7 linked regions of the Homo sapiens genome follow. The protein of the gene in region 2 purifies or fractionates together with the protein of the main gene of each other region. This does not show direct contact. Each region holds a gene or a part of one and is shown on either strand. Other genes may lie near its edges. The genes, in order: NAGLU, ART3, PAM, CHD1L, ITGA8, POGLUT1 and ARSK.

What was found.
Region 1: the proteins of ART3 (region 2) and NAGLU purify together in Homo sapiens (affinity purification with mass spectrometry, with the first as the bait; 2 studies listed by BioGRID). This does not show direct contact.
Region 3: the proteins of ART3 (region 2) and PAM purify together in Homo sapiens (affinity purification with mass spectrometry; 3 studies listed by BioGRID and IntAct, with this or other methods). This does not show direct contact.
Region 4: the proteins of ART3 (region 2) and CHD1L purify together in Homo sapiens (affinity purification with mass spectrometry; 2 studies listed by BioGRID and IntAct, with this or other methods). This does not show direct contact.
Region 5: the proteins of ART3 (region 2) and ITGA8 purify together in Homo sapiens (affinity purification with mass spectrometry, with the first as the bait; 2 studies listed by BioGRID). This does not show direct contact.
Region 6: the proteins of ART3 (region 2) and POGLUT1 purify together in Homo sapiens (affinity purification with mass spectrometry; 3 studies listed by BioGRID and IntAct, with this or other methods). This does not show direct contact.
Region 7: the proteins of ART3 (region 2) and ARSK purify together in Homo sapiens (affinity purification with mass spectrometry, with the first as the bait; 2 studies listed by BioGRID). This does not show direct contact.

The regions. Positions count from the first base shown.
Region 1 is NC_000017.11:42,534,764-42,539,040, forward strand, and holds the start of NAGLU (alpha-N-acetylglucosaminidase precursor), read left to right. Parts: upstream 1-1,477; 5' UTR 1,478-1,509; coding exon 1,510-1,892; intron 1,893-2,053; coding exon of another isoform or gene 2,054-2,110; intron 2,111-2,634; coding exon 2,635-2,782; intron 2,783-3,575; coding exon 3,576-3,722; intron 3,723-3,906; coding exon 3,907-3,992; intron 3,993-4,277. UniProt on the Homo sapiens protein: Involved in the degradation of heparan sulfate.
Region 2 is NC_000004.12:76,102,209-76,105,708, forward strand, and holds part of ART3 (ecto-ADP-ribosyltransferase 3 isoform a precursor), read left to right. Parts: intron 1-1,728; coding exon 1,729-1,761; intron 1,762-2,140; coding exon of another isoform or gene 2,141-2,241; intron 2,242-2,388; coding exon 2,389-2,421; intron 2,422-3,313; coding exon of another isoform or gene 3,314-3,500.
Region 3 is NC_000005.10:102,758,305-102,761,804, reverse strand, and holds part of PAM (peptidyl-glycine alpha-amidating monooxygenase isoform e preproprotein), read right to left. Parts: intron 1-3,500. UniProt on the Homo sapiens protein: Bifunctional enzyme that catalyzes amidation of the C-terminus of proteins. Alpha-amidation is present at the C-terminus of many endocrine hormones and neuropeptides and is required for their activity.
Region 4 is NC_000001.11:147,284,184-147,287,683, forward strand, and holds part of CHD1L (chromodomain-helicase-DNA-binding protein 1-like), read left to right. Parts: intron 1-167; coding exon 168-316; intron 317-1,140; coding exon 1,141-1,304; intron 1,305-2,114; coding exon 2,115-2,317; intron 2,318-3,451; coding exon 3,452-3,500. UniProt on the Homo sapiens protein: ATP-dependent chromatin remodeler that mediates chromatin-remodeling following DNA damage.
Region 5 is NC_000010.11:15,604,923-15,608,422, forward strand, and holds part of ITGA8 (integrin alpha-8 isoform 1 preproprotein), read right to left. Parts: intron 3,369-3,500; coding exon 3,313-3,368; intron 2,910-3,312; coding exon 2,755-2,909; intron 1,501-2,754; coding exon 1,363-1,500; intron 870-1,362; coding exon 802-869; intron 1-801. UniProt on the Homo sapiens protein: Integrin alpha-8/beta-1 functions in the genesis of kidney and probably of other organs by regulating the recruitment of mesenchymal cells into epithelial structures.
Region 6 is NC_000003.12:119,482,463-119,485,962, forward strand, and holds part of POGLUT1 (protein O-glucosyltransferase 1 precursor), read left to right. Parts: intron 1-2,865; coding exon 2,866-2,925; intron 2,926-3,500. UniProt on the Homo sapiens protein: Dual specificity glycosyltransferase that catalyzes the transfer of glucose and xylose from UDP-glucose and UDP-xylose, respectively, to a serine residue found in the consensus sequence of C-X-S-X-P-C.
Region 7 is NC_000005.10:95,589,601-95,593,100, forward strand, and holds part of ARSK (arylsulfatase K precursor), read left to right. Parts: intron 1-1,800; coding exon 1,801-2,025; intron 2,026-3,500. UniProt on the Homo sapiens protein: Catalyzes the hydrolysis of pseudosubstrates such as p-nitrocatechol sulfate and p-nitrophenyl sulfate. Catalyzes the hydrolysis of the 2-sulfate groups of the 2-O-sulfo-D-glucuronate residues of chondroitin sulfate, heparin and heparitin sulfate.

The sequences.
Region 1 (4,277 bases), on a different chromosome or scaffold from region 2:
AGGCGCTCGCCAACACGCCCGGCTAATTTTTTGTATTTTTAGTAGAGATGGAGTTTCACCGTGTTAGCCAGGAGGGTCTTGATCTCCTGACCTCGTATCCGCCCGTCTTGGCCTCCCAAAGTGCTGGGATTACAGGCGTGAGCCACCGCGCCCAGCACCTGGCTAACTTTTGTATTTTTAGTACAGACGGGGTTTCACTGTATGTTGGCCAGGCTGGTCTCAAACCCCTGACTTGAGGTGATCTGCAAGCCTCAGCCTCCCAGAGTGCTGGGATTACAGGCGTAAGCCACCGCTCCTGGCCTAAGGTTGGCTATTTTTATGGTTATTTCTTGATTATATGATAAACAAGGGGTGGGTTAGTAATGAATTTTTCAGAAAAGGGGTGGGGATCCCCCCCAACTGAAGGTTCCTCCACTGTTTAGACCATATAGGGTAACTTCTGGACGTTGCCATGGCATTTGTAAACTGCCTGGCGCTGCTAGGAGTGTCTTTAGCATACTAATGCATTATAATTAGCGTATAATGAGCAGTGAGGACGATCAGAGGTCACCTTCCTGTCTTGGTTTTGGCAGGTTTTGACCAGTTTCTTTGCTGCATTCTGTTTTATCAGCGGGGTCTTGTGACCTTTTATCTTGTGCTGACCTCCTGTCTCATCCTGTGACGAAGGCCTAACCTCCTGGGAATTCAGCCCAGCAGGTCTCTGCCTCATTTTACCCAGCCCCTGTTCAAGATGGAGTCGCTCTGGTTGGAAACTTCTGACAAAATGACAGCTCCTGTTATGTTGCTGCTGCTGCCGCCAATGGACAGCCTTTAACGTGCCCGCCAGCCCTGCTCCACCGCCGGCCTGGGCTCACATGGCCCCATCCCTCCTCGAACCTCCTAGCCTGTTAGTTACTCAAATCTGCAAGCTCTCTGCCTTCTCAGGGCCTTCAATAAATGCATTTCTTCTGTCTGGAAGGCTCTTCCTTTCCCTCTTCTAGCCAATTCCTATTCATCCCTGAGTTTCAGATTAAAAGTCACTTCCTTTGGAAACCTTACTTCGCTACTTCGCTACTTACTGCACTACTTCGCAGCATCACAACTATGATGGAAATCCTTACTTACGTTAAATATCTGGTTTCTAGGTCACCTCCCTGACGGGGACGGTAGGGACCGTCTTCTCGTTCATCAGTAGGGAAGTAGCTATGGCAGTGCCTGATACAAAATAAACTCCAAATGTGTATTTATTAGATGGTTGGATGGAAGTTATTTGCGTGTGAAAGCGCGTTTTACCCGAAGGCGCTCTGTGAGGGCCAGCGGGTCCCCTTCGGCCCTGGAGCCGGGGTCACACGCTCCCCACCGCGTGCGGTCACGAGACGCCCCCAAGGGAGTATCCTGGTACCCGGAAGCCGCGACTCCTGGCCCTGAGCCCGGGCTTAGCCTTCGGGTCCACGTGGCCGGAGGCCGGCAGCTGATTGGACGCGGGCCGCCCCACCCCCTGGCCGTCGCGGGACCCGCAGGACTGAGACCATGGAGGCGGTGGCGGTGGCCGCGGCGGTGGGGGTCCTTCTCCTGGCCGGGGCCGGGGGCGCGGCAGGCGACGAGGCCCGGGAGGCGGCGGCCGTGCGGGCGCTCGTGGCCCGGCTGCTGGGGCCAGGCCCCGCGGCCGACTTCTCCGTGTCGGTGGAGCGCGCTCTGGCTGCCAAGCCGGGCTTGGACACCTACAGCCTGGGCGGCGGCGGCGCGGCGCGCGTGCGGGTGCGCGGCTCCACGGGCGTGGCGGCCGCCGCGGGGCTGCACCGCTACCTGCGCGACTTCTGTGGCTGCCACGTGGCCTGGTCCGGCTCTCAGCTGCGCCTGCCGCGGCCACTGCCAGCCGTGCCGGGGGAGCTGACCGAGGCCACGCCCAACAGGTACCGCCCCGAAGCTTCCCCGCGTCCGCCCGAGGCGCTTACCCCCTCCCGGAGCCGCTGCCACCCAAATCGGGAGGCTGAGCGGGGAGCGCTGGCCGGAAGGCCCAGCTGCGCCGCCTCCAGCAGCTGTGTGGCCTTGAGCCAGCCACTCTGCCTTTCAGAGCCTCGGCTGGCCCACCTGAAAAACGGAAAGAAGACGCCTACCGTGCAGTGTTATTGTGAGGATTTGCACGATGATGGGCATAGAATTTGTGGTGCACAATTGGTGATGAGTGAATTTTCTTGCCTTCCTCCCCCACCTTCTCTTTGAACCTGCGGACTGAGGAAGGACGCCTCCATCCCCCACCCTACAGGCCTGTGTTCCAGCGCCTGCCACACTATGGAGTGATGTGTTCACACAGCTGTCCTCCCCTGCCCATCTGTTAGACTGTGGGGGCAGGGATTCCCCGTTCCAGGAAAACACCGTGCAGAGGAGGGGCTCTGGCAGTGTGGCATGAAAGTGGAATATGCCACCCAAATACCCGCCAGGCTAGAGGGCCCTGGGAGAGTGCAGGGGACGAGTGCCTCAGAAGCCCAGCCCCGGTACCTGGTCTCAGCTCCACCTGGGGTGGGTCCCAGTGTGCAGCAGAAGGGCCGAGTTTGGAGCCCCTCCCCTCTCCTCTAGGTGGGGGATGGGGGATTTGTTCCAGGGCCGTGGACCCTCCAGGGTGGGATGCGCCCCTGCTCATGACACTGCCCGCAGGTACCGCTATTACCAGAATGTGTGCACGCAAAGCTACTCTTTCGTGTGGTGGGACTGGGCCCGCTGGGAGCGAGAGATAGACTGGATGGCGCTGAATGGCATCAACCTGGCACTGGCCTGGAGCGGCCAGGAGGCCATCTGGCAGCGGGTGCGTGCCCACTGTCCCTTCCCCACCCTCCTCTATGGCGGGAGCCACCGTAGGTGTTTTCACCCGCCCCCCAGCATGGGCGCAGTGTCTCTCTCTAGAAGTGCTTTCAGCGTGCACAGTGGCTTGGGCCTCCTAAAAACTGAGGCTTCCGGCCGGGCGCGGTGGCTCACGCCTGTCATCCCAGCACTTCGGGAGGCCTAGGCGGGCGGATCAGGAGTTCAGGAGATCGAGACCATCCTGGCCAACATTGTGAAACCCCGTCTCTACTAAAATACAAAGAAATAGCAACCTGGGCAACAGAGCGAGACTCTGTCTAAAAAAAAAAAAAAAAAAAACTGAGGCTTCCAGTTTGAGGAGTGGGGCTCCTTCCCCCATCTCCCCTATGCAGCCAATCACCTGGTCCCTTGGATCCAACTCATGGGCAGCTCTAGATCTGCCTCCCTGGAAGCTTCTGTGCTGCAATGGCTGCTCCAGGCTCTGCTTAAGCTCTTCACACAGTTGCCCTGCCCTTCCATCTGGCACTCTTGCTCCATGAAGCCTTCTAAGGCCTTCCTGTTGGGGGAAAGCCCCTTTGTGCCCCATCTCCTCACCCATGCGACAAAGGCAACACAGTGAACTCACCTACTCACAGGTCTCTTTCCTCTGGGCTGTGGGCTCCTTGATGGCAGCGTTCGGATTTTGTCTCAGTAGCCCTAGCACCCAGCACAAAGAAGCAATGAGTGAATGGTTGTTGAATGAATGAATGAATGAATGAAGATGAATATATTTCTATGTGTGGGCCCTTCTTCCTCAGGTGTACCTGGCCTTGGGCCTGACCCAGGCAGAGATCAATGAGTTCTTTACTGGTCCTGCCTTCCTGGCCTGGGGGCGAATGGGCAACCTGCACACCTGGGATGGCCCCCTGCCCCCCTCCTGGCACATCAAGCAGCTTTACCTGCAGGTAAAAGGATGGAAAAGGGAAGGGGCAGAATCGGTGATAGATGGTCATGGGCCCAGGAAGGGTGGTATTAGGCCGGCCCCAGGGCTCTTAACTGAGGCGGGGGGCTGCGTGTATCCTGGGAGATGAGGGCCTTCTCATAGGACAGCAGTGGCCATGCTCACCACCCTTCCTTCTGTTCCTCCAGCACCGGGTCCTGGACCAGATGCGCTCCTTCGGCATGACCCCAGTGCTGCCTGCATTCGCGGGGCATGTTCCCGAGGCTGTCACCAGGTGAGGTTCCGCTCACCCCCTCCACTTAGCTCAGAGAGGGAATTTTATTCCCTTCTAGAACATGACTTAAAAACTTAAGCTCTGGGCCGGGCGCAGTGGCTCACGCCTGTAATCCCAGCACTTTGGGAGGCCGAGTTGGGCGGATCACCTGAGGTCAGGAGTTCGAGACCAGCCTGGCCAACATGGTGAAACCCTGTCTCTACTAAAAATATAAAAATTAGCTGGGCATGGTGGCACGCGCCTGTAATCCCATCTACTTAGGAGGCTGAGACAGGAGAATTGCTT
Region 2 (3,500 bases):
ACATCAGTTTATTTCAGGCTACCTTTTTTGTGTGTAAGGATTGAAGCATCGGGAACTTCATTTATCAAGCTGATTGAAGATTTTAAAATGGCCAATTTGGGAAATTCTGTTATTTCTTTCTCCTGATTTCTTAGAAGTTCAGACAACTTAGTTTAGATGATGTGGAACTTTAGCATGGGTGACTCCATTTCGATTTTTAGTCTGGTCTGTTGGGGCCTTCTGCAGAAACTTAGTCTGAAGCAATGGCCTCCTATAATTTTTATTTGACAGTAGCAAAAATTTAGAAACAACCTGTGTCCAACCATTGGGTATTGTTAAATAAAATATTACCTATATTATGAAACACTAAGCAACTTAAAAATCATGTTTTCAAAACCATCTAAAGATAGAAGAAAGTACTCTTAATACAATGGTAAATAATTGGATATAGAACTGCATATAGAGTATAATATTAACTTTTAAAAATGTATATGTATATATATGTATGCATAGCAAAATGATTGAAATACACCAGAAATGTTAAGAATGAGTAGAGTATTTCCGAGATCTGCAGTTTTAAGAGAACTTTAATTTTTAATAATTTTCTGTATTTTTCCAAATTATCTATAACGTATTATATAGTTAGGAAGCATATTTTATATATTACATATAATGCCAATTTTGGGTCGAGGTCTTTGGGTTGAATTTTTAAAAAACGAACAAGAGGTGCTTAACCTAGGAGAGATTCTGGGTCACTAGCCTTAGTTCTTATCATCAGTTAGGCTCCAGTGGGTTAAATCTCTTCTTTTTGTTACCTTGTCCTCTGCCATTTCTCAAAGCGTTCTGAGTTTTCTACTACAGAAGTCAAGTATAAGGTCAAATTAATTTTCAAGCTGATGGCATTTTTTTACTAAATAGTTCTTATTCTCGTCCTTAGGAATAAAAAGCCAGAGGCTCACTGTTTCACCTGGGAAATAATCTATTTACTGAGACTAGCTACATGGTTAGGAGACGATAAGGATTCCTAGGATTAAGAACATTGTGAAAAGCCAGCACGGTGGCTCACACCTATAATCCCAGCTCTTTGGGAGGCGTAGGCAGGAGAATCATAGTGAGTTATGATCGTGTCATTGTACCCCACCACAGCCTGAGCGACTCAGCGAGACCCTGTCTCTCAAAAAAGAAAAAAAAATATTACTGAGCCTGGAGAGTTTGAGGAATGAGTTAGACAAGAACAAAGGGACTTCATTTATTGAGTACCTTTTTTCGCTCCGTGCAGTGTACCAAGCACTTTTATGCAGTCTTTCCTTCAATCTTCACTAACTACAAACCTAAGAGGTAAATATTTCTCTTGCAAAGTGAGAAACTAAAGTTAGGAGGGATTAAGTAGTCTGCCCAAAGTCACAGAGCTAATAACTATAATTACGATAGAGCTAAACCAAGCAGAAATGTAAAACCAGTAGTGTTTCATCCAAAAACTGATATATTGGGACTGCCTTCTGAAGATAAAGCTGGAGAGACGGGTTAGATCGTGGAAGTTCTTGAAGTCCAGGCTAAGGAGTTTGGACTCTGTCACATGGAGAATGAAGAGCCATTGAAAGGTGTTTTTGTTGTTGCTGTTTCTTTTTTCTTTCCCCCTGCCTTTTTTTTTTTTTGAAAGTTGGAAATGGAGGAAATATAGACAAAAGAAGAGTATTAACAGTATAAGATAACTGATTAATACAAACCAATATTTATTTCTGCCTTTAGGTGTGAAAATCCTTGAACCCACCCAAATACCTGGTAAGACAGCTTTCTATTTACTCCCTGAGCCCAAGAATGAGTTGAGCAGGATTCCCAGGCATTTAAGAGAATACTGTCATGAGACTATTATTCATGAATATTTCCCTTATAGCTACCTGCCAGTCATCTACAAATATTTAGCTGGGGAAGCGTAGAGAAGTCTCTTTCCTCCTGTGCATTCATGTGCTCCTGGAGCATTGTCTCTGGGGCAGGAAAGTTAGTTCTGCTCTGGATGTTGCTGAGGGGAAGGCTCCTGGGATCTGGATGCATCAGTCCAACACCTTCCAGGTTCTACAGCTAAAGTTATTCAATAGAAACCTACCTTTACGCACAAGTTGACTGTTAGTCTTGGCTAACATCTCATTGCCTGTATCTCCAGGTAACAAAACACGATATTCTCCTGGCATAAACATGCTCAGTGAAGTGCTATGGCAGAAGACTCCTCTAATCATGGTGTGGATTTGTATAATAAGGGTTTACGTAAGCAGAACTTTTAAATAAAAAGCCAGAAACTATAGTGCATTGGGGCCTTGGGTGCTTGCATCTCTTAAGCTCAGCAGACAAGAGTTTGAAAATTATACTCAGTGGAGCAAACTGTAAGTCATTGGAAACTTCCTTCTCATTTAGGAATGAAAATTCCAGAACCTTTTCCACTACCTGGTAAGCAACTGATAGGCATGCCAGAGGGGAACATGCCAGTTTGGGGAGTACAGTCACCATTAGATATGCATGGGACTTTCTATGCCTCATAATTGTCATCTATCAAATGTAGCCATCAGTAGTCACATGTACATGACAGGAATATTTGTAAGGACTATAAAACCATGGAATCTCAGGGTGCAAGCCACTGTCCAATGCATAAATCCCTTTCTCCTGAGTTCATGTAGTACTTTGAAATATTTTTTTGCAGGTTTTGTTATTATGGAAATGATGATCTGTTAAGGAAATTAGATATTTGGCATCTTAAAAACTATATCCAGCCACACAGTGCTGAACTTCACGTAACGCTGCTGTCAATGGAAGCTGCGTGCTGTATAAAGAAACAGCGTTTTCCATTAGTTAAATAAAGGCTCAGAGAACATAGGCTCAGAGAAAAGGGTCCAGGACCTCTTTTATATTGACCCAAATTTGCACTGTTGGATTTATTTGGCCACAACTTTGAAGTGAACCTCTAGTGACACTGATGACACACCTTGTGCGTCTACATCTCTTCAGCTCGCTAGTCCTGAGTTTGCACAGTGCCATCATTGGGGTCTTGCTCATCTGGCTATCTGAAAGGCAGCCACCGAGCATGGTGGGAGATGAACATGAGCTGTGTAGACAGATAGACCTGGCTTCAGGAAGTCTCTGCCACTTTCCTCTGAGTAGCTTTATATAAGTTACTTCACTTTCTACGCCCCTGCTTTCACATCTGTAAAATGAGGAAAGCTTCTGTCTTGCAGGACTGATGAGATAAAGTACCTAGCAAAGTACCTAGCAAAATGAATGGTGGTAACATAGTAGTAAATGGTAGCTGCCTTTGTTATTATCTGAAAACCTCTTTCTTGTTTAGGAATAAAAATGATACAACTGAATGAAAAACCTGGTAATATATTCTTTATTGGGGGTGGAGGCACCATGGATTCTAAGTCCTTTACCATAATCATTCAGTTAGTTCAGTCTTATGGGGTCTGGGGAAGACATCTGGGCTGTACACTTTCCGATATCCCAGTCTGCAAGCCAGACAGGGAAAGTGTTGA
Region 3 (3,500 bases), on a different chromosome or scaffold from region 2:
ATGCTATTCAAAATTAACTAATATCTTCATAAAAGTTCCCTTCAAAAGAGTTCTAAAAGATAACATAAGTGCTTAAAAATAATAAATTCTATCTTTAAAATATTCTAAACTTCAGACTTTTAAAAGCTTGAATTAATCTTTATATAAGTAAAATGTTACTGCACTACAAATGAGTACTATTTTAAAACAAACTTACTTTGGCATAAATAAGTGAAATTCTCAAGATATGAAATTTATAAGGCATTTTTAGCCACGGAAAAAGCAGGTAGTAGTATGATTCTTCCATAAGGGCCTCAGACTTTACTTTTATTTATTTCTACCACTGTTTTTGTTTTGCTTATGTTGTACATGCAGCAGTGAACTGTACACTCAATGCAGGTAAAAACCGTCCTTTGTTACTGCAACTGTTGGCTGGACCTATTATTCTTTGTGCATTTGCTTCCCAGTACTTGTGGCCCACACTCTCTACAAAATGAGCTTCTCCTATCTGATAGGGAAGCAGATCTGCTGCTTTGATTGTTTCCTTAATTCTGCGGTGTCATTTAAAGTTGTACTTTAAAGTATTATGTTTTATATTTTTTGAGTCCAGTTCCCTCCTTTCTTGAAGCTACCCTCTTAAACTCCCTGAACAAGAGCCATCTGGAAATCTTGTTCCTGTCCTCCATCCTTTCTGTGAGACCACACCAGCACAGCTGGGTTGCAGCAGGCACTGCCGAGGTGCTGCTGGACTGGCTATGCTCCAGACCCTCACTGTTAACATGCAATTCTTGTCCTTTTGTGTTAAGCATGGTTAGTAGACAAAGCTCAAGACAGTGTTCAGCAGTTCAATCTCCTTTGGGCACAGATCCTAATCTCACAATCACACATGATTTGAGTAACGCTGTTTATATGTAGAACTTCTGTTGCTACATGGTCCCAGTCTGCCCAGTCTCCAAATTGACAGTGTAGATACTTTTCCACTTTTCTTTTCCCCAAGAGGCCTGAACTAAGTACTGTATAGGTTATCCAAACAGAAATATTTTCTTTGTATTAAAGGGACTCCTGTGAATCTAACATGAAGTCAAACATCATTTTTATGCTGTCGAAATCAACAACTTCTACTGTCTCTACTCACTCACCAACACAAACAAAATTTGAAGCTTTAAACCAGCAATGTCCAATAAAACTATCTGCAATGATGGAAATTTTCTATATCTTCTCTGCCCAGTACAGTATCCACTAGCCTTGTATGGCTATTAAGCATTTGAAATGTGGCTACTGCAACTGAGGAATGGATTTTTAAAATCGTATTCCATTTTTAATTAATTTATACTTAAATTTAAACAGACAATGTGGCTAGTGGCTATCAATAATTAAGGGTCTGAGATTTTTATCCTACTTGCAGGCTAACGAAATCAGGGTGCCACAGTTTCATGGGGATGCTGGAAGAAGACAGAAAATTCTAGGGTGAGAAACAAAGGACTATACTACTCACAAAAATATCAGTAGCAGTAGTATCAGCATAGTTGTGCCAATGTCCTGAAACTCAGTTCCCCCCATGTGATGTGAAGCAGATACTTGATGATCTGCATTGTCAGAGGGGAACCCTGAGCTTAGGGTACTTGAATCTTTTAAACTGGACAGTAAAACCTACCTGCCCTTTGCTTCAGAGGGAAAGAATACCTCTATCTTCCAAAACTATCTACCATACAAATGTCTTTAAGAGAGTCTGGGATGAAAGCAGTAAATGCCTTTGCTCACAAGACATGCAAAAGTCTGAGTGACTAATGGAGAATTGAATCCCAACATAGGGGTATCATACATATCTCTGAAATCCACTCATCTCCCACCTGCTTGAATACCTTGCTTTTAGCCACACTTAATTTCTTCCTATGACCACGGTAAGCTTCCAAATGGTTATCTTTCTTCCACCACTGCCTCCTCCCACTCATTCTCTATACAGTAGCTAGACTGCATCTTGTAACACAAATCTCATCTTGTTTCAGTCTTCAATGTCACCCACTGTCCTTAGAATTAGGCCACCCCTCCTTAGCAAGTTCCACAAAGCCAGTGCTTCCCTTGCTTGTCCGTTTAAGGTTTATGCCTTTAGCCACATTAAACTCCTCTCAGTTTCTTACATGTAGAGGTCATAAAGTGGTGGCCCTAGGTTGAATTCCAACTACAGATTTGTCTGGTTTGGCCCACAGAATAGTTTTTAAAACATTTGGGTTAGTTCATATTTGGGAGATTTCATATTTATAAAATATGAATTTTAAGCTCCTCTTTAGAAATCAAGGCATCTGGCAACACTTGGCCTGCATCCCAACCTGACAATACTTGGCTGAAATGAGTATCTACTTTTCCCTTTAGACAGCTTGGATTCTCCAGATTGCCACGCCTCTCCCTCCTGCTCTTACCTATGTATTGTTTAACATTTTCTGCCTGACTTCCATTCTAAGGCATCATGCTCCCTTTGGTCTCTTTCAATCTTCCCACCTCTTCAGCTGCTAACTACCACTCATGCTTCAGGTCTTCATGTATTCATGCTGCTAGGAAGTTTTCCTTCACCACCACCAACCCAATTAGGATGAGATGATGCACTGTGTGACATTCACCTACCCAGGACCCTGCTATCCTATCTTCTGAGGTTCTCTTCACTACCCTTATCATGGCATGAATCATATGGCATTATAATTTTTTAAAAATTTTCTTTATAAATTTATAATTCTCTGTTTACAGATCTGCATCCCTCTCTAGACCTTTCAGTCATAAGAAAGTGACTATAACTGTCTTGTATACCATTGTATGTCAGTGCCTAGGAAAAAGCCAAACGTTTAGTGTGGGCTGAATAAACACTTGTTGCATAAATGAATGAAAAAAGTTAGCTGAGGAATGGCTATTTCAAAATATTGGGGAAGAGTGTATTTATATTTTTATATATGTATTCATTTTTAAAATGTGGACCACTGAAATTCCATTCCTTCCCCCCTCCCCCTACCCTGGAGAAACTAAAATAACTACTTGAGTCATAGAGCAATAGCTGTATACTGGCAATGTGCTAAGAACCACACATGGATTAGCTCATTTAATGCTGACAACAGTCCTTTCAGGTTAGTATTTCATTATTCCCATTTTGGAGAGGTAAACATTCAACCCCAGATAAAATGAAGGCCTTATTCTCCACAACACAGTAAATTGTAGGGATACATGATGACTGAAATTTCTGCCAGGATACCTGAGAGCACATGACACCAACAGCAGCTTTATTCACAGCCCATCTTTTGAGCTATTTGTATGTGGTTTTAATAATTAGCTTTCGCATTCAAATGGTAAAGAAAGTTCTTATACACACAAGAAGCATTTATGGCTATTATACCAGATGACACGGCTTCCAGGGCAGTAAGAAGGATCTTTAATCTCATTTCACAAATAGAAAAACAAAGGTATGGAACAATAAAGCCAAGTGTAAAGTTAACATTATGTCCCTCAGGCTGCCCCTCAGCCTGCCATGCCTTAATGTG
Region 4 (3,500 bases), on a different chromosome or scaffold from region 2:
ATTCTTCAGTGTCAGTGGGATGGGAAATGAAATACCTTCCTTCATATGGACTTAGCCCATTTAGAATATAGGCTGTTCTCCTGTCCACTTTTGTTATTGATTTGAATAGCATTAATCTATTTTTCCTTGGTATCTAACATTTCTCTCTTTGTGTTTTATGTTGTTAGAAAATCATATGTACTTATTTGAAGGTAAAGATTATTCTAAAGAGCCCAGTAAGGAAGACAGAAAATCATTTGAACAACTGGTAAACCTTCAGAAAACCCTTTTGGAGAAAGCTAGTCAAGAGGGCCGATCACTCCGAAATAAAGGCAGTGTAAGAACTGTTAATTTATTTAAAAGTTGTTCTTCCAAACTCTCATTCTAAAACAAACAAAAAAATGATGCTGGCATCGTTTTGTTCTCTTAGGATGATTTGTCAAGAAATAAGTATGTGTTTGCTGAAATGTTATTATAATTAACTATACCCTAGTATAAAAACTATGTAAAAAAGTCAGCATGAAAAACATAAAGGAGAGAATATATTGTACGATGTCATGTAGGTGAAAGCAGCCTTGTCCATCCAAGTCACCCCTAAAGGCATTCCTATATTATACCAAAATACCATATCCTGCTGTTGGTAATGATGACCCTATGACAAGAAGAGAGGATGGCAATCATAAATGATATATGTAGTGTTCACAGTGTTTGGCAGTTAACGTGGTCATTAAATGCTAGCTATCACTAAGATAATCATGATGTTGAAATACAATCTTAAAAAAGTTACATAATACATTGCAGAAAGAGTTCCATTAAAAATGGCTGAAGTGGCATCCTGCAGGGTATGCTTTTAGTCAAGGAAAAAAGTTACTTTTCTGAAGTAACTTATTCCTAATGAAATGAATCAAAATGACTGTTTCAACCATGCCAATGCTAGGGCTGAGTTTACAGCATGGTATCCTGGTCACTGTGCCTGTGAAGTGTGTAGTATGAACAGTGCCTCCAAGTGCTTTGCCTCCAGTTCCCACCATGCAGGGTGTGTGGAGATGCAGTGTTCTGTGGAATATTAAGCATGTTGCTTCCGTACAGTGTGTGTTAGGGATAATGAAATTCGGGGAGGAATCTTCTTGACCCTGGTGATGGATCTTGTTCTTCCTCTAGGTTCTCATCCCAGGCCTTGTGGAGGGATCTACCAAAAGGAAGCGGGTTCTGAGTCCAGAAGAGCTGGAGGACAGACAGAAGAAAAGACAAGAAGCAGCTGCCAAGAGAAGGAGACTCATAGAGGAGAAGAAGAGGCAAAAGGAAGAGGCTGAACATAAGAAAAAGTATGTCTGCGTTAACCAAGCTGGCGGCCACAGTTGAAGGAGTCACTATTGTATAGTGAGACCACAGTTGAATATCACTTTAAAAATACAGAAAATTCATTTTAAGTTGGTTCCTATTGGTAACAGAATACTTTCTGAAAACATTTCCTCTAGGTAAGTGAAAAGTCTCAGTGTATAAGGCAGGGAAGATGCATTCCATTAAAACCAGAATTGTTTTCTTTTTTCTTTTGAGATGGGTTCTTGCTCTGTTACCCAGGCTGGAGTACAGTGGTATGGGCACAGCTCATTCAGCCTCAACTTCCCATGCTCAGTGATCTACCCACTATAACCTCCCTAGTAGCTGGGAACACAGGTGTGTGCCACCATGCCTGGCTAATTTTTTTTATTATTTGTAGAGACAGAGTTTCACGGTGTTGCCTAGGCTGGTCTCAAGATCCTAGGCCCAAGCTGTCTTTCTGCCTTGACCTCCAAAGTGCTGGGATTACAGGCGTGAGCTACCATGCCCGGCCAAAACCAGAAGATTTTAAGATTTTATTGTAGCTATCTGACAAAGAATAATTTACTTCAACAATCTCTTTTAGTCTTAAAAACAGGAACATTCAGGGAGTGCTCATTATTGAATTGTAGTCAGGAAGCAGTTAGCCTAATCAGTAAGACTTGTTTACAAATAAGTAGAAAACTTCAATCAGGGTGAGTTTCTAATTGCATTTCTACTTGGCAGATATTGTTTGTGAACAGCAGTATAAAATGTGCTCCAAGGGAAATTGTGATTGTCTGGGTTAATTTCCTTTTGTCTCTGGCCTGCTAAAGGATGGCCTGGTGGGAATCCAACAATTACCAGTCCTTCTGCCTGCCCTCTGAGGAGAGCGAGCCAGAGGACCTTGAGAATGGGGAAGAGAGCTCTGCTGAGCTGGATTACCAAGACCCAGATGCTACTTCCCTCAAGTACGTTAGTGGTGATGTCACCCACCCTCAGGCTGGGGCCGAGGATGCTCTCATTGTGCACTGCGTAGGTACGAGAAGTGGTATGGGCTGGGGATGGGGGCCTCAGTCCTTATGGTGCCAAGAACTGGGGAGGATGGGGCACTGGGACTGGGGTGGTGGTCCCAGTGTAGTATTGTACAGTCAAAAAAGTGTGAATTTTAGAGTCAGGAGATATTCCAGAATCATTTCACTCTTGGCTTTCTCATTTACCTGGTTTAGTTACCCAACCTTTCAACTTCAACTTCCTTATCCATATGATGGGACAATATCTGTCTTATCCTCTGCACAAGGTTTTTAAGAGGGTGAAATGAAGCAACATTGATAAGACAAACAAATCCTTTGAGAAAAAGCAAAACTTCAAGCTTGTTCCCTTGCTTGACCTTTGTACTTTTTACTTCATCTGCCTAAAACCCTTTCTTCCCAAATAACCACATCAAGTGTTGTTCAAATGTCTGTTTCTCAGAGAGGTCTTCTGTGATTACCTCATATAAAACAGGCCCCATCCCCCCTGTTATTCTCTGTCCCTTCTCCCATATTTTCCTTTATCACACCTGTCCCACCTGACACATTACCTATGTATTTGTTTATTTGACTGTTGCTTTGCATTAAAAAATACACTTATGGCAGCAGGGGTTTTTTCTTGTTCGCTGCTGTGACTGTGGTGCCTAGAACGATGCCTTACGTGTAATACATGCTACCAAACGTTTGTAGTGTGAATGAATGACTATAAATGCTAAGATACTAAGCAGCTTTGTTAGTACCAGCTTGAATAAGTCACTTAACCTTTCCTGTGTACTGTTTCATAACCTTGCCTATGTGCTGTTGCATAACCTATTGCTTCTACTCACTCTGTAATGTTCCATCTACTCTCCGTCCTTCCGCAGTCATTTGCCAGGAATCACAGATGCACCACAGAGATTTTGCTCATTGAGAACCCTAATTTTTGAGATGCTTTCCTGTTATCATGGCCCCAGCTATATCTTCCAGAAAACATAAACATATTTGGGAAGTCCAACCTGTGATATTCCTAGGAGATAAGATATTTTGTTTCTTCCCTTTGAAAAATCATTCTTCCACAAGTCCCTTTTGTGTGCCTTTGTTTTTCTAAATTGTGCACTGGACTTCACCTCCTATAGATGAAAATTTTCTCTTTCTTCAAACAGATGACTCTGGCCACTGGGGCAGAGGTGGTTTATTTACAGCTCTGGAAAA
Region 5 (3,500 bases), on a different chromosome or scaffold from region 2:
TGCAGTTCACTTAGAACTGCAAATCAAGCCAATAGTTGGAAATGCCTACTCCACTTTTTAACCTTACTTAAAGCGATTGCATTTGAAGTTGATAAATTATGAAATTTGGGGGAAGTCCCTCTGAGAAGTTACCAAGCAGATTCCAAACACTGGCAGTGAGATAGTTCCTGGGAGGGAAAGAAACACAAATCTGTTTCTTGACCACAGAATGTTTTACATCCTAGTCCATGTCTTCCCATAACAGAATACAGTGCAATTTCCAGTGCTGGAATGGGGGCGTCCATTACTGGCAACTGTGAAGCCCTTTGATTCGTTTCAATTTTGTGACACCTTCTGCTTTACTCCATAGAGTGCTATTTAGGTTTATTTATTCAATAAGTTAAAATTAATTTTGTTTTGACAGTTTTAAGGATGGCTTTGAGTCATGGGGTGCTGAAAAAAAGTTTGGTTGAAGGTGTAGATGGAACCTGCCTGTCTGAATCCTTTGTCTACTTGACTGAGGCAAGTAAACATAACCCGAGCCACCCCATCAATGAGTTTACTTTCAACAAAAACATTTTTTTCCCCACTTTTGCTGAAAGATGAAACGACCCAGGCAAAATCTTAGGGTGTGTCATTTGACACCAATGACAAATAACTGACCCAAACCACAGGCTAACCCAAAGTGTAGCCAAGCTCAAGAATTTCACGCAGCATAGTTTTTGGTAGTTATTGGAAGTGTATACTTTCTCCAGAGAACCTTTACATAAATACCTGTAATTCCATTAGATAGAAAGTACACATTTAGTTATTTAAACTTACGGTCTAGCCGACAGCTTCAAGTCAGGAACACACAGATTGTCTTCTCCACAGTCCACCAGAATGTGAGCCTGTGTTGTATAAACGCACGTCAGGAACAATCTAGGAAAATCTGATTCACATCCTTTTTCTTGAAAATTCTGAATGGTGCCACAAACGGAACCAGAGCTTTCCTCTCACTATGCATGACTCTACCCAAGCCAATAGCCTACATTTCACAGTGACCTCCCAATACAGGCTACTTTACATAATAGCCCAATTCCAATGCACTCTGAAATATCTGCAAAGAATGCAACTCTGCCTATGGCTTGAGGATTACAGGCTGTATTGCTTCCATTACAGCCACATTTTGAACAAATTAAATCTTGATTGCACAAGAGGAAAGGCTTCCGAAAAACACAATCATGCAGTGTTTCAGGAAACATGGTAGGAAAACTCCCAAATGTTCCATGTCTGCATGCAGAAGTAAAAATGAAAGGAGCTGGCTTTAGTCTTAAAGCCATGAGAACAACACCCCAGAGAGCTTGCTTGAGAAAATGCCGTCAAAGACTGTGAAGGACTTACCTGTTCACTAACAATGTTTTCTCTGTAGTAGTTCAATATTGGTTTCACTTCCAGGCCTTCTTTAAAGGTGGATTCGTCCAAACTGTAATTCAAACTAATGTTGATTGGAGATAATTTATCTCGGAATTCAGTTTCATCCTAGGAAAAATAATCACAAACTCAACAGAGGCTCCATGAAATAGCTGCAAGATGTCAGTCTGCAAAAGTCAGGCAACACTGGAATTTACTCAATGAAAGTGAATGATGAAACAATTATCTTTGCAGCAGGCTTAGATGGAGGCTGATTTATGTGGTATATAGTAGCCAGCATACCTAATATATGTGCAGTGATGAAATCATTTAGAGCTGCGGCTTCATTGAAATACGCTTCTGGAGCCAATCTTTGGGTTCTCCAGACCTTCAACAACTCATGCAGAACTGGTCAAGTTGCAAAGTAAAAGATTACACGTGTATATCATAAATGTCACAAAAAACATCATGAATTTGGATTTTTATTTTCGTGAGGTTGCCAGAATTTATGAGTTCTCTCTTGGGGCTCAGAAGAAGAAAACATCTTGATTCTCTTCCTCTCATCATCTTTTTAAGCCCTTGCCTGCATGAACTTCAGAACACCTTCAGGATATTTGAAGTTCTTTTGGAAAAAGAAACAGAACTCCTTTAGTAGAGAGGGGTAAGCACCAAACAGCAAGCACTAAACACACGGTGGATATGTCACCCTTCAATTGTTTGCCAATCAAGGGTCAGGTATCCAACTTTTCATTCTTGAGTGTGATTGTGAACCTGTGATCTTCCCTAGGGTGGTCCTTGCTAACTAAGTCCCCTAATGGAAAAGAGAAATTGAGACAGTTATCACAACCTCACAACCGGCAAGGTGAAGATAGGTAATTGTGTTATAAATATTTTTACTTTAAAATTTCGGTAGGTTTTGAAGTCATTGTAAAAAGACATTACTTTAAATAAGATAATTATAAGTTACTTCTAATAAAAGCTTTGAATGCCTAAATATTTTCCTGAATTGGCTCTGAAACATGCATTGATAAAATCTAACAAGACATACTCACATAGGAGAAAAATTCACATAAACTGTGTTGCACTTTTATGTATTTTGGGGAGGAGGTGGGTAGAAATGAAAACCATGTGAGCTGAATGCCATTATAAAGATTTTGATCAAAATGAAAAGAAGCCTTAGAAATTAATAGCAACACATCATCAGGTTAGTTGAAGTCAGGGTCAAGAGGAGAGTATTTGACCCTAAAATAAAGTTTCCTGCTATGAAAATGAAAACAGACAGATGGGGGTCTATGCAGACAAACATGATGGTTAAATGGAGAAAAATGGTTGGAATTTGGATATGAAGGAGAGAGGCCAGAGAAGTCTTTCTGGAATACTTACTCGAAGGTAAACGATGAAATCCTGGCACTGGTGGGATTTCTGCCTTTTTATCACAAGAGGGAAGACGCGATGAGCCTGATGGTTATCAAGGAAGAGCGTCCGTTTAATAGCTCCTTTCTGTTTCAGGGAATCTAATTGCACCTCTGCCATCAAGACTAAAGGACAGAAGTAAAGTAGAGAAAAAGTATTCAGTGAACACAGTGCTCTATCAGAGAGATGAATTTCTATTTCAAGTTGCTTATTCAGGAAACAGTTCTTTTTCATAGTTGAGACCAAGCATGATAAATGAGCTGGAAAAATTGTATAACATACTCTCCAAGCTACAAATGTTTTATAATGGTTTTATAAAAGTTGTCATTTTCCCTACAATTATATGTTCTTATAAATAATAGTATTACCAAGTATTGAAGTAATATTTATTAGAAGGTTCCATATATGCAACAGATATCTTGGTATTCCTCAAGGGTTCTTTCATTTTTTTATGGTCTGTGCAGAGAAATGGTTACTGTTCAACTTTCTTAGTATACCATAAGAATGTAAAAATGAAAACATGCTTACCTATTGTGTTTGCAATGCTCTGGCCTGTGACAGATGCACATACTCTTAAAGAAAAGCTATAGAAAATAGTAGTAATTTATTGGTTAATAAAGTTTTGAATCTAAAGTAGAAGCCTTCCTTTACCTAATCCCAGATAACGAATATCATTTTCTCTATATATTTCTAATTACACACACACACACACACAC
Region 6 (3,500 bases), on a different chromosome or scaffold from region 2:
AAGGTGTTATCCAGTTACTCCACCGTGTAGTTATTAATACCATTTTCCCCCAGGTAAACTAGTAAGCAATTTTTAGGCAGATAGAATGTTTTAAAGTCTAATCTTATATGAATACTTTTTTCTTTTGATACCTTCCCATTTTATTCAATTGAATTTATTCATGGTTATAGAAATACAATTTTGTTTTTTAGAACCCTCTGTTTAGAATCTCTAATGATGTTCATTTGTTACCTTGAAAATTTAATAATCTGCTTGTTTATCCATCTGCACTGATGTCTGCCTGCCACTGTTCATTCTATTTTTCTGATATTTTGGGAGTTTGTGCCCACTGATTTATATTTCACTCTGTAGAAGAATTCATTGTTCTTTACAGATCGAAGATTTCATTTGTTACTGTCAGAGAGGGTTTAAAAAAGAGGGCTGGGGTAGCACCAGGCTGTGGTGGCCACCGTTAGCACTTGCCTGGAGAAACAAGTCCTAACCTAGGTCTTTTGAGGGAGGATGGGTAGGTTAGGAGAATGAAAGAGAGAGAACAGTGATACACAGTTTGGGTTTGTGTATATGAAACACAGCTTCCCCAGGAGCCAAGGAAATAAAGAGAAGTAACTTTGAGTATAAATTGATACATGTTTTGTTAGATAGTTTGACAATATGTATCAAAATTGGAAATGTATACTGTGTATCCTTTGACCTAGCTGTTTCATGTCTAGAATGTATCCTAAGGAATTAATCAGATGAATGTGCAAAGATTTGTGTACAAGGATGTTTACTACCATGTTGTTTCTTAGAGCAGAAAGTTGGAAACTACCTAAAAGTCCATCAATAAAGGATGAAGTGAATCATAACATGACTATAAAATGGAATTTTTGCAGTGAGTCTTTGCCAGAGATTATAAAATGGAATATCGTGCATGAATGGAAAGGCAGTGTAGGTTTTAAAAACTCTGGGTTCAAATCCTGGCTCTTATTAGCTGCATGACTCTGTGCAAGTTGCTTAACCTCTAAAGGACCTCATTTGTAAAATAGGGGTGATAAAACCTACCTCTTAAGATTGTGAGAATGATTTTTTATTTACAAAGCACTTAAAACAATGTCTGTAACATAGTGAAGTGCTATATAGATGTTGGCTGTTATTATTATTTATATTTCCTATTAAGATTGTTACCTAACAGTATGTATGGTGTGACCTCTGTTACATAGAGCAAAGTTTCTCAGTACTAGTGTTGCTGACATTTGGGGCTGGATAATTCTTTGTCCTGGGAGCTGTCCTAACCACTGTAGGATTGTTCAGCAGCATTTCTGATCTTTACCCACTAAATGCCAGTAGCAGTCCCCTAGTAGTAACAATCAAAAATGTCTACAGACATGGCCAAATGTCCCCTGGGTGGGAGGGACGGGCAAAATTACCCCCAGTTGAAAGCTACTAATATGAATAAATGATTGCAAGGAAATTCTCGGCTAAAATGTTACATTGTTACCTCTGGACAGGGAGATTCCAGACGACTTCTTACTTTTATCTTTATGCTTTTTCATGAGAACTTTGCATGAGGAGCATGAAACATTTTCCACTAAAAACAAAACAACAAAAATCCAGTGCTATAGTGTCTCTGCTTGGGCAGGAAGAAGTATGGGGAAAACAAGATAGTTCTGGCCTTAGACTGGAGAATCAGGTAAAGGTGATCCATCCAGAAAAGGCCAGAGGATGAGCCACGTTGGCTGAGGGTGGAGGTCTGAGGGCCTGGAAAATACTGAGCAGCGTTCTCAGCTGAGTGAAAATGAGCAGCATGACATTATATGTATCTGAAAAGGACCTGTGCCTAGAAAGTTTATATCCTAAGTTTCTCCGTTACTGTAATCCAGCCCATCAATCCCTCATTAACTTCAGTTCAGCCTTCCCTTCCTTTTTCAGAGAAGATGCTGTGCAGACTTCTGTGCAGGGAGGGTTCCTACGAAGCAAGTTAAGAATGATGCATCTGTGAGCTAGCAGTTTCAGTAAGGAAGGCTGGTCATGGTAATGTGTACTGAGATCTGACTTTCAAGGACTTCATCTTTATAGAGCACTTAGTCTGGCTTTAAGAATACAAAGGTGCTTTTCAAATATCAAACTAAATCTGATGACACTTCCCACCTATGGAAAACATAAAATCAGAGAGTGATTTCCCTTTCATTCCATTTCTGATGCTTTTTTATTTTTTTGCAGTTCTGTACACATAATTAATTTCATCAGTAGCACCCTACTTAAAGTACAGAGGAAATCCACATTTGCCAAATTATAAACAGACCTAATCATGACCTTCAGGGTTTGGGGGCTTTTCTTTCAATGTTGTTAACTTGTTAATGGGGAGTAGATTTGTAGATACAACTGGGTAGCACCTCCAGAGCAATGAAATGGTAGCAAAAGGAAACAAAGTGTCCTTTAGGGCTTTTTCTTTTGAGTGACTTTGATTAGACTTACTTAGAAATATGAAGCTCTGGCCAGGCACAGTGGCTCACGCCTGTAATCCCAGCACTTTGGGAGGCCGAGGCAGGCGGATCACGAAGTCAGGAGATAGAGACCATCCTGGCTAACACGGTGAAACCCTGTCTCTACTAAAAAATACACAAAATTAGCCGGGCGTGGTGGCGGGCGCCTGTGGTCCCAGCTACTCAGGAGGCTGAGGCAGGAGAATGGCATGAACCCAGGAAGGGGAGCTTGCAGTCAGCCAAGATCGCGCCACTGCACTCCAGCCTGGACGACAGTGCGAGACTCCGTCTCAAAAAAAAAAAAGAAATATGAAGCTCTGAACTAATCTTCAGAAATGGTTAAAGCACATTCTTATATAGTTGAAAAAGATATATTGAAACTAATTAAATTCTATATTCTTAGGTCAGCAGCACAGTGGCCATGGAAAAAGAAAAACTCTACAGCATATTTCCGAGGATCAAGGTGAGTTATTTTCTGACATTTTACAAAGATATTCTTCCAAGTAATGTAAAATGTAAGTAACTTTGAGGGTATGACAAGCTCTGTAGTTCAAAGGGAAAGCTAAGATAACAAAGAAAGAAATGTGGAATCACAATTTTAGATTCGAGAATAATTCACATTATTTGCCGAAATCGCCATTGATTGAGTTGATATTCAAAGAAGTAAAGTTCATCCATTTCAGTCATTTAACAGATATTTTACATAGTGTCACAAATGTGTCGGTCATTGATTATGTGATGCCAAACACAACAGATGGGTGTCTTCTTACAGTCCCTAGGAGTAGCTTATGATCATGCCACGGTACTCTGCTGGTTAATGCAGAGCAGGACTCATCACCATATCTCTTGACTGCCTTTTTTATCACACCCTGTGGCTGCCAAATAGTGGTTAAGAGCACAGACTGAGACTGCTGAAAATGAAGAAGGGAGCAGGGAGGAAAGAGAAGAGAAAAATGGCAAAGGTAGTAGGAGGACCCTGTGTTGTTCAGCTCCATAGTCCCAAGGCCAAGAACAGTTCCTAGCATGTCAATATATGAT
Region 7 (3,500 bases), on a different chromosome or scaffold from region 2:
CATGATCTCATTCCTTTTTATGGCTGCGTAGTATTGCATGGTGTAGATGTACCACATTTTCTTTATCCAGTCTATTGTTGGTGGGCATTTGTGTTGATTCCATGTCTTTGCTATTGTGAATAGTGCTGCAGTGAACACACATGTGCATGTATCTTTGTAATAGAATGATGTATATTCCTTTGGGTATATACCCAGTAATTGGATTGCTAGGTCAAATGGTGTTTCTGGTTCTAAATTTTGGAGGAATTGCCACACTGTCTTCCACAATGGCTGAACTAATTTACATTCCCACCAACAGTGTAAAAGCATTCCTATTTCTCCACAACCTCTCCAAAATCTGTTGTTTCTTGACTTTGTAATAATTACCATTCTAACTGGCAATTATTTATTGCCAGTTAGACGTTTATTGAATGAGCATAATCGGTAAACATTTATTGAATGAGCATAAATGCTAAGAATTACAATGTGTTGTTGTGACTACAGTAATATGCAAGTTGTAGGCATCCTGAAGAACAAAGTGATTTACTCTACCTAGAAGAGCAGGGAATGGTGCTTTGCTAGAGAGATAATGCATGTTTGAGCTGGGTCATAAAGGAAGAATAGGAATTTGTCAAGTAGACTGTGGGAGAAAGGGCATTCACCATAAATGGCAGAGTATATGCAGAGGCAAGAAAGCGTAAACTAATATGGTGTGTGTTTAGGAGGTTCTGAGCAGGTTAGGATTGTTGAAACGTAAAGGTCTAGCAGGTAGCCGAGGGTGCTGAGTGTGGAGAGTGGACAGGGGCATTGCTTGTTATGCTAAAGAATTCGACAGTGGGCATCTATGAAAAAGTTTCAAGCAGGGATGTGACACAATGGAGTGATTAGGTAATTTAGAAAGATAGACACCAGGATAGTACAAGCAGGGGAAAGAGGAGTAGGGGCAAGACCGATTAGTAAGTAATTCCAGTTGTCCAGTTGAAAAATCAAGAGAGTCTCAACTCTGCAAATAACTCCATAGAGCAGTGAATGTCAATCCTGATTACACCTCAGAATCTGTAGGTTTTTAAATTAATATACACTCTTCTACCCAGATTCAGGAACTGCCAAAATAGGGATGACCCTTCTCTCTGGCCTGTGCTTTCTTGTGATTCTCTTAATTACAGTAGGAGGAAGTTCGAGAACACTGAGACAGGAACTGGTCAGAGGAATTTTACTGTCCCATTATTCCCTATCCAAGAAGATGCTAAATCAAACTTGTACACTATCTGTCCTGCTTCCAGCCCTTCTTCAAAGGTGGGATTTCCATAATCCTCAGCCAACTTTATGAGCATGATCTGGTGATTGCTTAGAGATTTGGGAGAAAAAGTAGCAGAGAAGAAGAGTTCTGACTGCTCTTATCACTTCCTGTTGCACAGAAACTGTGGGTCAGAGGTGATACCAATCTTTTTATCATCTGAGACATGTAAAGTGCTCATATCCAACTGATCTTTCTTTTCTCATTCAAGGCACTAAGGGGAAGATTTTTTCCCCTATTCTCTGGTAGAAACCTAGAAAACAAGCCGGCATGATCTCCAGATAAGCAGCTTTGAGCAAGAGTTCCCATGGGTATTATATTTTCTTCTTCCTCTAGTCAGCTGAAGAGCAAGCAGTAGACAGACCACTGTCAACTTTAGACTTAACTTGAGAACAGTAGGTAATATTCAGATGTTAAGAAGCATAGTGACAAACTCTTATAGGGTAGAGTGGTTATAAACTTAATGTGATAGAATAAAACATGAACTGAAAGTTTTAATCGGTTTATCATGATTTCTATTGTAGGTGAAATTATTTTGGCCCTTCATCAATTAGATCTTCTTCAGAAAACTATTGTCATATACTCCTCAGACCATGGAGAGCTGGCCATGGAACATCGACAGTTTTATAAAATGAGCATGTACGAGGCTAGTGCACATGTTCCGCTTTTGATGATGGGACCAGGAATTAAAGCCGGCCTACAAGTATCAAATGTGGTTTCTCTTGTGGATATTTACCCTACCATGCTTGGTAAGTAATGTAGTTCTGTAAATATTTATTTGTAATAATGCTGGAGAATGCAACTGAAGTTGTCAGTGAGTCAGTCTTTCAGTTAGTAGTCAGAGGTCCTGCTGACTTGTTTATAACCCTGAGCAACTCATTCAACTGTGAGTCAAATCTGTACTCTGAAGAATGAAGAGATTGTTTTTCATGTCCCTGTGGCCTTCACTTACTATAGTCATTTTCCCTCAAAAGATTTGTATTCAGGAGATGACTGTAAAGTAAGCCATGTAAGATATTCGGGTTCATAACCTTATAGATATGATTTGTACATCATTTGATTGTCTACCACCACCTCCTTAAAATGTAAGCATTTCCTTTCTGAATTATTCTATTCACTTTGAAACTAGTATGAACATATTCCTCCTCAGACTCTTTAGATAGTTCTGTACTATTTGCTTTACTAGCTTCTTAATGTCTACAAGCATAGCCATATGTCTAGAAAAGCAACATATGGATAAGGGTAGTTAGCAGTTTTTGTTGAAGATACTAGAATAACGACATAATCAAATTCAAAGGAAATCATAGAACTAACTTCTAGTTTCTATCTCATTTAGCAAAGTACTTTAAATTCATTAGCATTTAAACACTAGTTTCTCTGTTCTAAGGCACCATCAATTGGAAAAAGTACCCTCAATTCATAAATTTTGGTGAAAGAAAAAAAAATAGCACAAGTTATGTTCTCTAATTTCAGAAATGTTAAAATGTGAAAGAAAGATGCATCTTAAAATCAAAGAAATCAGAGTTCTTTTTATCTGCTTCCTTCTGCCACAAAGTTCTTCCCTTAATTTAACTAAATTTATTTAGAGTTAATTTAAACCAGCGTCCTTTCCTCTTTTATTTCATATCCCTTCTCATATAATTACACATACTTCTTTCCAGTTCCTTGAACTCTTTTTTTTTGTGTGTGTGTGATGGAGTTTCGCTTTTTCACCCAGGCTGGAGTGCAGTGGTGCGATTTCGGCTCCCTGCAACCTCTGCCTAACAGTTTCAAGTGATTCTCCTGCCTCAGCCTCCTGAGTAGCTGGGATTACAGGCGCCTGCCACCATGTCCAGCTAATTTTTGTGTTTTTAGTAGAGATGGGGTTTCACCATGTTGGCCAGGATGGTCTTGATCCCTTGACCTTGTGATCCGCTTGCCTCGGCCTCCCAAAGTGCTGGGATTACAGGCGTGAGCCACTAAGCCTGGCCAGTTCTTTGAATTTTTAATCTCTTCTGTTTCTTAGTCATCATTTGCTGGTTTCCCTTTATCCCAAAGTAATGATCACACTCAGCCATATCTGGGCCACTTTCTCATTCCATTAGTTTCTAGCTGATCACTATTACTTTTCCTCATTTCTGTGTTTTTTTTAAAGAAGTTTATATAGAACTGTGTATATTTGGGTCTCTTTTATTAGTATATTTAGAGTTTTATGAATATATATGAATTTAGAGTTTTATGAATA